2 separate regions of the Homo sapiens genome follow, and region 1 is linked to region 2. The links come from fine-mapping of genetic effects on gene expression. A gene starts in region 2. The other region holds a variant in brackets. All regions are shown on one strand. Distances are between the middles of the regions.

Evidence for each region. PIP is the estimated chance that this variant, and not a neighbour inherited with it, causes the effect.
Region 1: its variant is the best candidate, but not a certain one, in a credible set for the expression of PUS7L in whole blood (TOPMed, PIP 0.77).

Annotation. Positions count from the first base shown.
Region 1 is chr12:43,707,742-43,713,122 of GRCh38, forward strand. No RefSeq gene overlaps it. Among named protein-coding and RNA genes, the nearest start is that of PUS7L, 48 kb to the right of the region's middle. The variant T/C (reference allele first, on the strand shown) is at 2,736.
Region 2 is chr12:43,755,894-43,761,274 of GRCh38, forward strand. PUS7L (pseudouridine synthase 7 like) reads right to left here and starts at 2,897. Exons shown (of 9, transcript NM_031292.5): 1 at 2,837-2,897. It overlaps IRAK4 (interleukin 1 receptor associated kinase 4), which reads left to right and starts at 3,058. Exons shown (of 12, transcript NM_016123.4): 1 at 3,058-3,123. RefSeq lists enhancers at 2,585-2,634, 2,975-3,084, 3,705-3,764.

The DNA of each region.
Region 1 (5,381 bases), 48 kb before region 2:
TGAAAAGTTGTTGTAGTTATTATTTTTGATTTGTTCATTGTTTAGTCTTTCTACTTGAGATAAAAGTAGTTTTCAAACCACAGTTACAGTGTTATTATATTCTGTGTTTTACTGCGTGCTTTTGTATTACCAGTGAGTTTTCTACCTTCAGAGGATTTCTTAATGCTCATTAACATCCTTTTATTTGTCATTGAAGTACTCCCTTCAGCATTTCTTGTAGGACAGGTCTGGTGTTGATGAAATCCCTCAGCTTTTGTTTGTCTTGGAAAGTCTTTATTTCTCCTTCATGTTTGAAGGATATTTTTGCCAGATATACTATTCTGGGTTAAAATTTTTTTTCTTCCAGTACTTTAAATGTGTCATGCCACTCTCTCCTGGCCTATAAGGTTTCCAATGAAGAGTCTGCTGCCAGATATAGTGGAACTCCATTGTATATTATTTGTTTCTTTTCTCTTGCTGCTTTTAGGATTATTTCCTTATTCTTGACTTTTGGGAGTTTGATTATTAAATGCCTTGAGGTAGTATCCTCTGGGTTAAATCTGCCTGGTGTTTGATAACCTTCTTGTTCTTGGAAATTGATGTCTTTCTCTGGGTTTGGGAAGATCTCTGTTATTATGTCTTTGAATAAACTTTCAGCCCTTATCTCTTTTTCTACCCCTTTTTACAAGCAATTACTCTTAGATTTGCTCTTTTGAGTCTACTTTCCAGATTCTGAAGGCATACTTCATTCTTCCTATTGTTTTTTTCTTTTATCTCCTTTGACTGTGTATTTTAAAATATCCTGTCTTCGAGCTCATGGATTCTTTCTCCTGCTTGATCAATTCTGCTATTAAAAAGAATCTGATCCATTCTTCAATACGCCAATTACATTTTTATGCTCCAGAATTCTGCTTGATTCTTTTTAATTATTTCAATCTCTTTGTTAAATTTGTCTGATAAAATTCTGAATTCCTTCTCTGTGTTATCTTGAATTTCTTTGAGTTTCCTCAACACAGCTATTTTGAATTCTCTGCTGAAACATCGGATATCCTATTTCTCCAGAATTGGTCCCGGGTTCTAATAAAATTTATCTATCATATTTGTCTGATAAAATTTTTCTGGTAGAATTCTGAATCCCTTTTGTGTTATGTTTAATTTCTTTTAGTTTCCACAACACAGCTATTTTGAATTCTCTATCTGAAAGGTAAAATATCTCTGTTTCTCCAGAATTGGTCCCTGGTTCTTTATTTAGTTTATTTGGTGAGGTCATGTTTTCCTGGATGGTCTTAAAACTTGTAGATATTTGTCTGTGTCTGAGCATTAAAGTGTCAGGGATTTATTGTAGTCTTCTCATTCTGGGCTTGTTTATATTCATCCTTCTTGGGAAGTCTTTCCAGATGTTTGAAATGATGTGGGTATTGTGATCTAAGCTGAATCTGTGTTAAGGGGCACCACACGCCATTTAATATTGTGCTTCTTTGCAGACTCACAGAGGTACTGCCTTGATGGTCTTGGAAAGGTCCAGAAGATTTCCCTGGATTACCAGGCAGAGACTCTCATTCTCTTCCCTTACTTTCTCCCAAACAAACAGATTCTCTCTTTCTCTCTCTCTCTCTCTCTCTCTCCTCTGTTCTGAGCCAACTGGAGCTGGGGGTGGAGTGATACAAGCTCTCCTGTGGGCACTGATACCGGAACTGTGCTGGGTCGGATCTAAAGCCAGCACAGCACTGGGTCTCACCCAAGGCCTGCTGTAACCACTCCCTGGCTATCGCTTGCAACCTCTACAATCAGCAAGTGGCAAAGCCATCTAGGTCTGTGTCCATCCTTTCATGATGGCAATCTTTTTCAGGACCTGGGTGAGTCCAGAGCTGCCATCTTGGAGCCAGGAACTAGAGTCAAAAACCTTAGAAGTCTACCAGGTATTCTATTGTACTGAGGCTAAGCTGGCACTCAAATCACAAGATGCAGTCCTTCCCACTCTTCTCTCCCTTTCCAAAGTCAGAGGAGCCTCACACCATGGCCACTACCACCACAGGCCCACAAGAAGTACTACCAGACTACCACTGATGTTCCCTTAAGGCCCAAGGGCTCATAAGTCAGCTTATGGTGAATGCTGCCTGGCCTGGGACTCACCCTTCAAGACAGTGGGCTCCCTTCTGACCCAGGGCAGGTCCAGAAATGTCATCCAAGAGCCAAGTCTTGGAGTCATGGAACCCAAGAGCCCACCTGGTGCCCTAACCTTCTGTGGCCAAGCCAGTACATAAGGTGCAAGACAAAGTCTCCTTTACTTTTGCCTCCATTTTTCTCAAGCTGTAACCAGGGGAGGAATTTCATCATGTAACCACTACATCTGGGAATGTGCTGAGTCTCACCTGAGGCCAGCGAGTCTCAGAGTCTCACCCCCCTGACGTAGTACCTGGGTATTGCTGCTGGTTATTCAGGGCCCAACGGCTCTTCACTTAGCAGTTGATGAATCCTTTGAAGGACTAGATCTTTCCCTTCAAAGCAGCAGGTTCCCTTCTGGTGCAGCATGTATCTAGAAATGTCATCCAGAAGCTGGGGCCTGGAAAGGGGGGCCTCACGACTCTGGCTGGTGCCCTATCCTGCTGTAGCTGAGCTGGTATCCAACATGCAAGACATAGTCTTCCCCACTCTTCCCTCTCTTCTCCTTAAGGAGAGGGAAGGAGTCTTGAAGCCATGAGCTGTGCAGCCTGAGGTTAGGGGAGGGGTGATGCCAGCACTCTCTTGGTTGCCCC[T/C]GCCAGTGTCTCAGTAGGTCACATGTCCCCCCATTCCACTGGCTCTGGGCCCAGTTCCACATTAGGACTCAGCTAGGAGTTCAGGTGAGTCCTTTCAATCTTTTCAAATTGCCTTTCATGATTATTTAGGTCCCAAGAGCACTTTAGCTCACAGTGGCAAGGTTTGTGGGCACTCAAGTTCAGACCGCTGGTATCTGCCATTCCCCTCTGGCTAGGGCTGATTGGAATGCTCTCTCTGTGGGTGGGCATCAGCTGAATTTGGTCCAGTTTTGTTTTCTGCTATAATAGGGCAGCACTGAATCAATCCCTTTCTCAAGTGCACAGAAATGCTCTCCGCACCATGCCACCACTATCAGAGAATGGGGAAAGAGTGGTGTTGGTGATTGAAGACTGTTTTTCCTACCTCTTCAGTACCTCTTTCAGTTATGTGAAGTTAAAGCCAGATACTGTGAGTGCTCACCTGATTTTTTGTTCTTATGAAGGTGCTTTTTTTGTGTAGTTGTTAAATTGGTGTCCTTGTTGGGGGGAGACAATCGGTGGAGCTTCTATTCTGCCGTCTTGCTCCACTCCCCTCCCCTAACTCTTTATTTTTCAGTTTCTATGTCACAACCTTAAGAAAGTCCTTCCTTGAATTCCCTCTCTATAGTCACTTTCTACTTGCGTCAATCTGTTTGTTTATTCTGTAATACTTACCAGATTTTTTAAACTTACTTGTTTATTGTTTACCAGCTCCCTCCCACCATCTTCACTAGAAGGATCATTCTCTGTCTTGTTCATTTCTGTGTCTCCAACTCCTAGAGAAATATTTGACATACAGTGGGCACTCAATAAATATTTCTTAAATTAAATGAAATACAAAGCATAACTTTTTAAGTATCTGTTTCTTTATCTATATATTGGATACAACATCTGTATGAGAATCAAGAAAATAGTCATGAGAACCTTCTATTACAGCACCATTACAAATGTATAATTACAGTCATACATAAAATATTAGAAGTAGAGGATTGTTAAGTTCTTCAACAGTTACCTCCCGGGCTGTGAGTTCTTTGAGGTCAGGAACTATGTCTATTCCCCTTATCACTGTTTACTTCATGCTTAGCCTAGTGTCTGCCATGTAAGTAAATATTTGTAGAATGAACAAATGAGTCAATCAATGAGCATATCATCTCTCTGCCTCCAGAGAGACTTTCATCTACGTGGAATAAGTTTAGTTGTAGTCCTTCACAAAGAATTACATCAATAGAATTGTCTTCTATTCTTCATTTACTCAGTCATAAGAATTATTGAGTACCTACTATGTGCCAGGCACTGTGCCAGGTGCTGAGGATACAATGATAAAAACCCACAAACCAACAATGTCCCTGCTCTCATGGGACCTCATAGTGTTTTTGCTATACTCCTTAATCATTTCTACTTGTATAAAATTGTGATTGAAAGATGCTTCCACTCTTTCAATGTTATGGGATTTAATTTTTTATGTTTGTAAATATATGGCCAGTTTCCATAGACTGCTACATTGGCAATGAAAACAAGTTTTATTCTGTATTCTCCATGCATATAGCTCATTTTATATATATAAAATATCTACCTTATGAATTAACATAATTCTTTCATATCTAAACATATTTTTTCCCACTTACCCTGTCATGGATGGAGGGAAGTGAAGAGTCCTAAAAGTAGTATATTTCTATCTTTCCTTCTATTTATATAATACCTGCTTTTGGACTGATGAAACGCCTTTTATTCAATGCATAACTATTCCAGCTTATTTTAATTTTGTAATCTGGAAGTTTTAGCACTATAAAGCATCCTTCTTTGTCTTATTTAATGATTTTGACTTGAATTCATTCTAAACTGATATTAACATTATGACCTTTGCTTTCTGTTCATATTTGCCTTTGTTCACGACTTTATATATGAGCACTTTGAATCTATTTGTTTTAGGTGAGCCTGTATCATACAGGATAGAGTGAGATTTGCTTTCTGCTATGATATGACATATATATGGCCTCATTTTCCTCACAGTTTTATTTTAAATTGATAGTTTGTGTCAGAAGCCAAGATGGAATTAGACATGCAAAAGGTTTTGGGGATTAATGACTGACAGATAATGAAGAGAAGGAGCAAGAGTAGGCAGGAAAAGCCTTCAGACCATGGTATGGGTCTGAAACTTGAGAAGAGGGAGGGGAAGGAAAGGATAGTTGGGTTGGGTAGGAAGATCCTCTGACTGCAGTGCAGCTCTGAAAAAGTCATGGCCAACCTTACAGGGAGCTCCAGAACAAAGACTGTGCATTAGAGAAGCCTCACATTGGGCACAGATGTGGCCTTAATATCCCTGCCCTGCTAAGCACTGGTGGAGTTGCAGGAGAGAACATGTCCTTGTCGTCAACGCTGCAGCACATCCTGAAAGTATGTAGGTAACTAAACGCAGGCCTGTAGCTAACTGCATGCTGCCTGCCAATCTCACTCTTGGAGGAGTATTTGAGTGAAAAATTGCCATGGCTACCACACACATTTTATAATATTTTTATTCAAGTATAATTTACATGCAGAAATGCACAGATCTTAACTGTGTACAGCGTAACAAGTTTTGACAAATTAATAAATCCATTTATCCCATCTCAAGGTACCAAACATTTCTTT
Region 2 (5,381 bases):
GCATCAGACAGAAGAAACCCTTACAGAGCTTCCTGGAAACACTATGCAAGAGAATAGTACTCTGATCTCTCACTTTTCACACAAACCCATGGCTACCATACCATATGGAGCTGCAGGAAAGATAAATTGCCCAGGGGCCCCATACTAGTGAGTTCTGTGTTTCCCCCACATTCTCCAAGTAACTTATCATCATCTGGACCATCATCTCATACCTATAATGTATTCTACTAATCTGAACCAATTTAGCAAATCACACCTTCTCAATCCTTTCCATCATGCCATATAGAAATCACTACAAATTCTCCATATCCTAATTTCCTAAGGAATATATAAGATATACTTACTTTCCTTAATTACTTAATTTCCTGTACAGTTCCCTCACTTTCTTGCCCTAATTGAAATCTGGCTATTTCTTCAGGCTGCTTCTTCTTCAGTCCTCTCAAGTAAAGGCTATTTTTTCTTTCCCACCCATCTACCTTAGGACCTGGAGGCTGTAAATATTGGTCTATGTTTGTCACTGTTCGTTGCAAGCCATTTCTTCCTCTACTACCTCCAAAAACCCCAATTCTTTTGAAGAGCCTGCCATTGGGCTTTACCATCTGCTGTCATCCTCTCTCGGATCCCCAGACAACTCTGCTTCATTCACTGATCTCTGGCTCACTACCTTCTTATCCAACATGATTTTTATGATCATCTATATGGATCATCCATTCAATGTCTTGGACCCTCAAGTCCTCAATCTCAACCTCAACCTCACACCTCTACTTCATCTTGGTCATCCACTGTCACGGTCATAACTTTGACTTTCTCATCTCCAAAAACTGCATTAACCTTAAGCATCTGATTCTTATGACTCCCAATGTCCTTTATCACACCAACTTTAATACTTCCATTCCAAAAACTTTTAGATATTGTGAAGGTCCCTAACTCCTGCTTCTATAACTAGCCCACAAACCAGCCAGAATGGTCTTAAAAGGTAAATTAAATCATATCACAATCCAGTTTAAAACCCTCTAGTCACATTTGCAATAAAATCCAAATTACTCACCCTGGCTTCCAAGGACATCTAAGATTAGGGACCCTGCTTATTCTCCAAACTCATTTGTACCTTTACCCCATTACCCACTATACTCCAGCTACTCTGGCCTTCTTCAATAGTTTTGTGCTAACTGTTCCTGTTGTTTAAATTGTTCCCTCCCCAATCATATAGCTGCATCTTTTAGGATTCATTTCCTCAGAGAAGTTTTTCCTGACCAATAATCTACAGGAACCTGCAAGTGATTCTCTTTTTTTTTGAGACGAAGTCTCACTCTGTCGTCCAGGCTGGAGTGCAGTGGCATGATCTCGGCTCACTGCAACCTCCGCCTCCCGAGTTCGAGCGATTCTCCTACTTCAGCCTCCCGAGTAGCTGGGACCACAGGGGCGCGCCACCACGCCCGGCTAATTCTTGTATTTTTTTAGTAGAGATGGGGTTTCACCATATTGGCCAGGGTGGTCTTGAACTCCTGACCTCGTGATCCACCCGCCTCGGCCTCCCAAAGTGCTGGGGTTACAGGCGTGAGCCACCGTGCCCAGCAAGTGATTCTCTTTCACAAAACCCTATTTAATTTTCTGCATAGCAGTTCTAGGTAAAGTTTTTCTTTATTATTTATTGTATATCTCCTCCAAAGAGAATGTTAGTTCCACGTGAGGAGTAACCTTGTCTGCCTTATTTACTACTGATGATCACACATTTTGAACAGTGTCAAGCACATGGTAGGTCTGCAATAAATACTATTGTTAAATAAATGAAATAACTAGTACAAAATAAGAGCTGTAGGAATGAAGTGGAAGATAATTAGAAGAGGCATAATGCAAGAAGTGGCCATCTAAGTCCTCCATAGTTCAAGAGATAGAAATGAGGCAGAGACCTCACAAGTAATGTACAAACAAAACATGCAATGTGTGCAAGAAAAACAAGCAGTCCAGATACAGAGCAGTGGGGATGGGAATGCAGGGAGACTACAGTGCTGGAAAATGTAGCTGAGTTAGTACCAGATTATGGAAGATGTTGAATGCCCTGACAAGGACTTAGAATCTATTGGGTGGTCAATGGATGGCTACTGTTAGTGTTTGAGTAGAAAAGTGACACAATTCCAAAACATGCTTTTGGAATTGTAAGATGATTCTGATGGAAATGAGCAAGATGTATCCGATGGAGTAACAGTTAGAGGAGTTCAAAAACAAAACAGCATGGTCAAGAACATAGCTGTAGGGATTGGCCCTGAAAGAATAATGATCTTTTCTTTCTCCCAGAAAAAAGGAGGAAGACAGACATTCTAAGCAAGTGAAACAGGTAGGGAAACTTGGGGAGAATGTAATTCCAGCATCCTGGTAGAAGAGTGGAACTGACCTGGAGGACAGCAAAGGAGCCCACGTGGCGTTAAGCCTGAAGGTGCAGTATTCCCATTCAACAGAGACTGCTGCTGACAGTGGGCGGGGGAGTAGTTTGCTTGGCCCGTGGTTGAGGAATTCGTTGGCGGAGGAGGGATCCTGAGAAGGTACTAGAAATACTGAACCCAGTCCTGCAGAAGCTACTTAACTTCACAGAAAACTAGGGCGTCGTTGCCCTCCAGCACGTCCAAAGGTGTCCCCGACAAGGCCAGCAGCTCTACCTGTTTCTTCTCCCTCCTCTTACTCTGCCTGTCCAAAGGCACGACACTAGTCCACGTCACCTTTCTTTGGGCGCAAAGGGTATGGATCCTCAATGCCAACCTCGTCACCCCCCCCCCCCACACACACACACACACACACACATACAAGCCCACCATCGCGCAAGAAACTCGACCCCGTCTACCTCGGTTCAGTGGAAGGCATTCATTTGCACAACGCTGTGCGCATGCCCGGAAGCCTTAAGTGTTTCAGCCTCCGACAGGGGCGTAATTAAAGGGGCAGGCGCCCACGTAAAGACGCGCCCTACGCAATACGTGGAGTTTCTCACTTTGTGGAGCCGCCTGGAGGCGCCAAGATGAAGCCCATCGGGGAAGTGGGGCGGGGCCAACCCGGCAGGCCCCGCCCCTTCGCGGCGCTTCCTAGTTCGGCTGGTTCTTCTGTCGCCGGCTTCAGCAGCCCGCGCCCGGGCAGGTAAGGCATTCCCCGCCTTAATGCCTCGGTCAAACGTCGTCCGAGGTCCGCTTCCAGGCCTCGGCACCTCTGCCCCAGGGTTGCTGGGGTCGGCTGCGGAACGGAAATCTCTTTATCATCCGTGAGAAAAGTTAGAGAGGAAGTGGGTTCCTTTGACAGAGCTTACTCCAGAAGAAAGACTTGGGTAGGTCCCCGGTAATCAAGAAGTTCGTCGGCCCTGAGGAAGAGCCTGAGGCTTGGAGGGACGTCACCCAGCTGTTCTGGGGCGCAGTCGGACCTCAAGTTTCTCACCTCTCAGGCCCTGGATTCCGTGAACCCGACTGCGAAATGAAGTCTCTTTTCCCCAGAACCAGGAAGTCAGGCCAGCACCTGACAGATGCCTGTGGCGCCAGCAGCTCGCTGAGCCTCCACACGATTGTAATTCGCTTGTTTCTCCGGCCTCCAAGCTTCCAGGGAATTAGAAAGTGGAGGCGGCTTATGGGATCAGATGAGTACATTCGCAGATGGGGGAAAAAAGTGTACCTGTCAGCTTGGAAGCCAGAGGGAGACAAAGGGATAAAAGCAAACCCTGTCCAGGTGCGGTGGCTCATGCTTGTAATCCCAGCACTTTGGGAGGCCCAGGCGGGCGGATCGCTTGAGGTCAGGAGTTCGAGACCAGCCTGGCCAACATGGTGAAACCCCTGTCTCTACTAAGATACAAAATTTAGCTGGCATAGTGGCGGGCGCCCGTAATGCCAGCTACTCCGGGGGCTGAGGCAGGAGAATCGCTTGAACCCAGGAGGCAGAGGTTGCAGTGAGCCGAGATCGTGCCACTACACTCCAGCCTGGGCAACAGAGGGAGACTCCGTCTCAAAAGAAAAAAAAAAAAAAAAAAGCAAACCCTGAGAAAGCGAGAAAGCACTTTGAGCATTTAGAATGGGAACAAACGGCGCTATTAGTGCTTCAAAAACGTAACTGCCCAAGGCCCCTGGTAAGCAGAGGATACTAAAATCTGCCTTTTCCCTTTCTTGGAGTGGTCCTTGAAGAGGGCTATCGGGAAGTTCAAATTTCTTCTGTTTTCCTGCAGAGCGTTCATTTGAAGTTTGCTTTCTACCTCTCCAAACTGAGCTTCTGATATTCCAGGCCAAACTTGCTCCTTCCTCAGCCTTCTCTATCTCAGTAAATATCGGTAAACTTGGTTATGCTGTCTTCTCACTCTCCACATCAGCCCATAGCTTTCTATTGGCTCCACCTCAGAATCCTAGGACTTCTGCACTTGCTCTGCTACGACCCTGGTCCCAGCCTGCAGCACGTCCCACCTGGCTTATTGGTAGGCTCTCCTAAATGCTTCTTTCTTGCTTCTCTGTCCTTACTCCAACATCCTTTATTCCCAGCAGCCCCAGTATCCTTCTAAGACATGAGTACAGAGCATGTCTCTTTTCTCAAAACTTCCAGCATCTACATCTCACCCAGAGGATAAACAAAGTCAATACAAAAACTCTAAGGCCCTTGAAGACCTGGCCCCTTTACCTTTCTGACCTCATCTGCTACTTGCCTGTTCCCTCCTCTGCAGTCTCACCATGTCCTTGCTGTTGCCCAGTGGGCCCAGTTCCAACCTTTGCATTTACATTTCGTTTTGTCCACAAACTTTTCCCACAGATAGTCCAGTGGCTGGCTTTCTCCTTCTTTTTGACCTTTAATCAAATGGCACCTTCTTATTGAGGCTTCCTGTGACTACCATATTTATAATTACAACCTTTTCTCTATTTCGTTTTGTTCTTTCATTTCACTTGGCACCATCTAACATACTATAGAGTTTATTTATTTGCTTATTGCCTTCCTTCCTCCATTAGAATATAAACTCCATGAATTCAGGTTTTGGTTTTGTTTTGTTTTTTTTCTCTAATTTTCCTAATGCTTCATCTCCAGGGGCCTGGAGCAGTATCTAGCACAAAGTAGACACTCAGTAAATATTTGGTGAGTCAATGGTATTATATTTTGTTTTTTAAATATATGCAAAGCATTTTCAATTACTTACTGTTGTGTTGGATCAATGTTCAAGAAAGATATGTTAAGTTTAATTTATGGTACACCAGCACATATCCCAGTTTGTAATAGGCAGCCCTATCTAATTTAATAGCTCTGGAAGCCCTCACCAGCTTTTGTTCATAATGATGATGTTAAAGTATCTAAAAATAAAGATTAATGGTTATACAGCATATTTTGCTAAGAATATATGGAAGTAAATAGTGTATTTTAGAAAGGATATAAATACATTA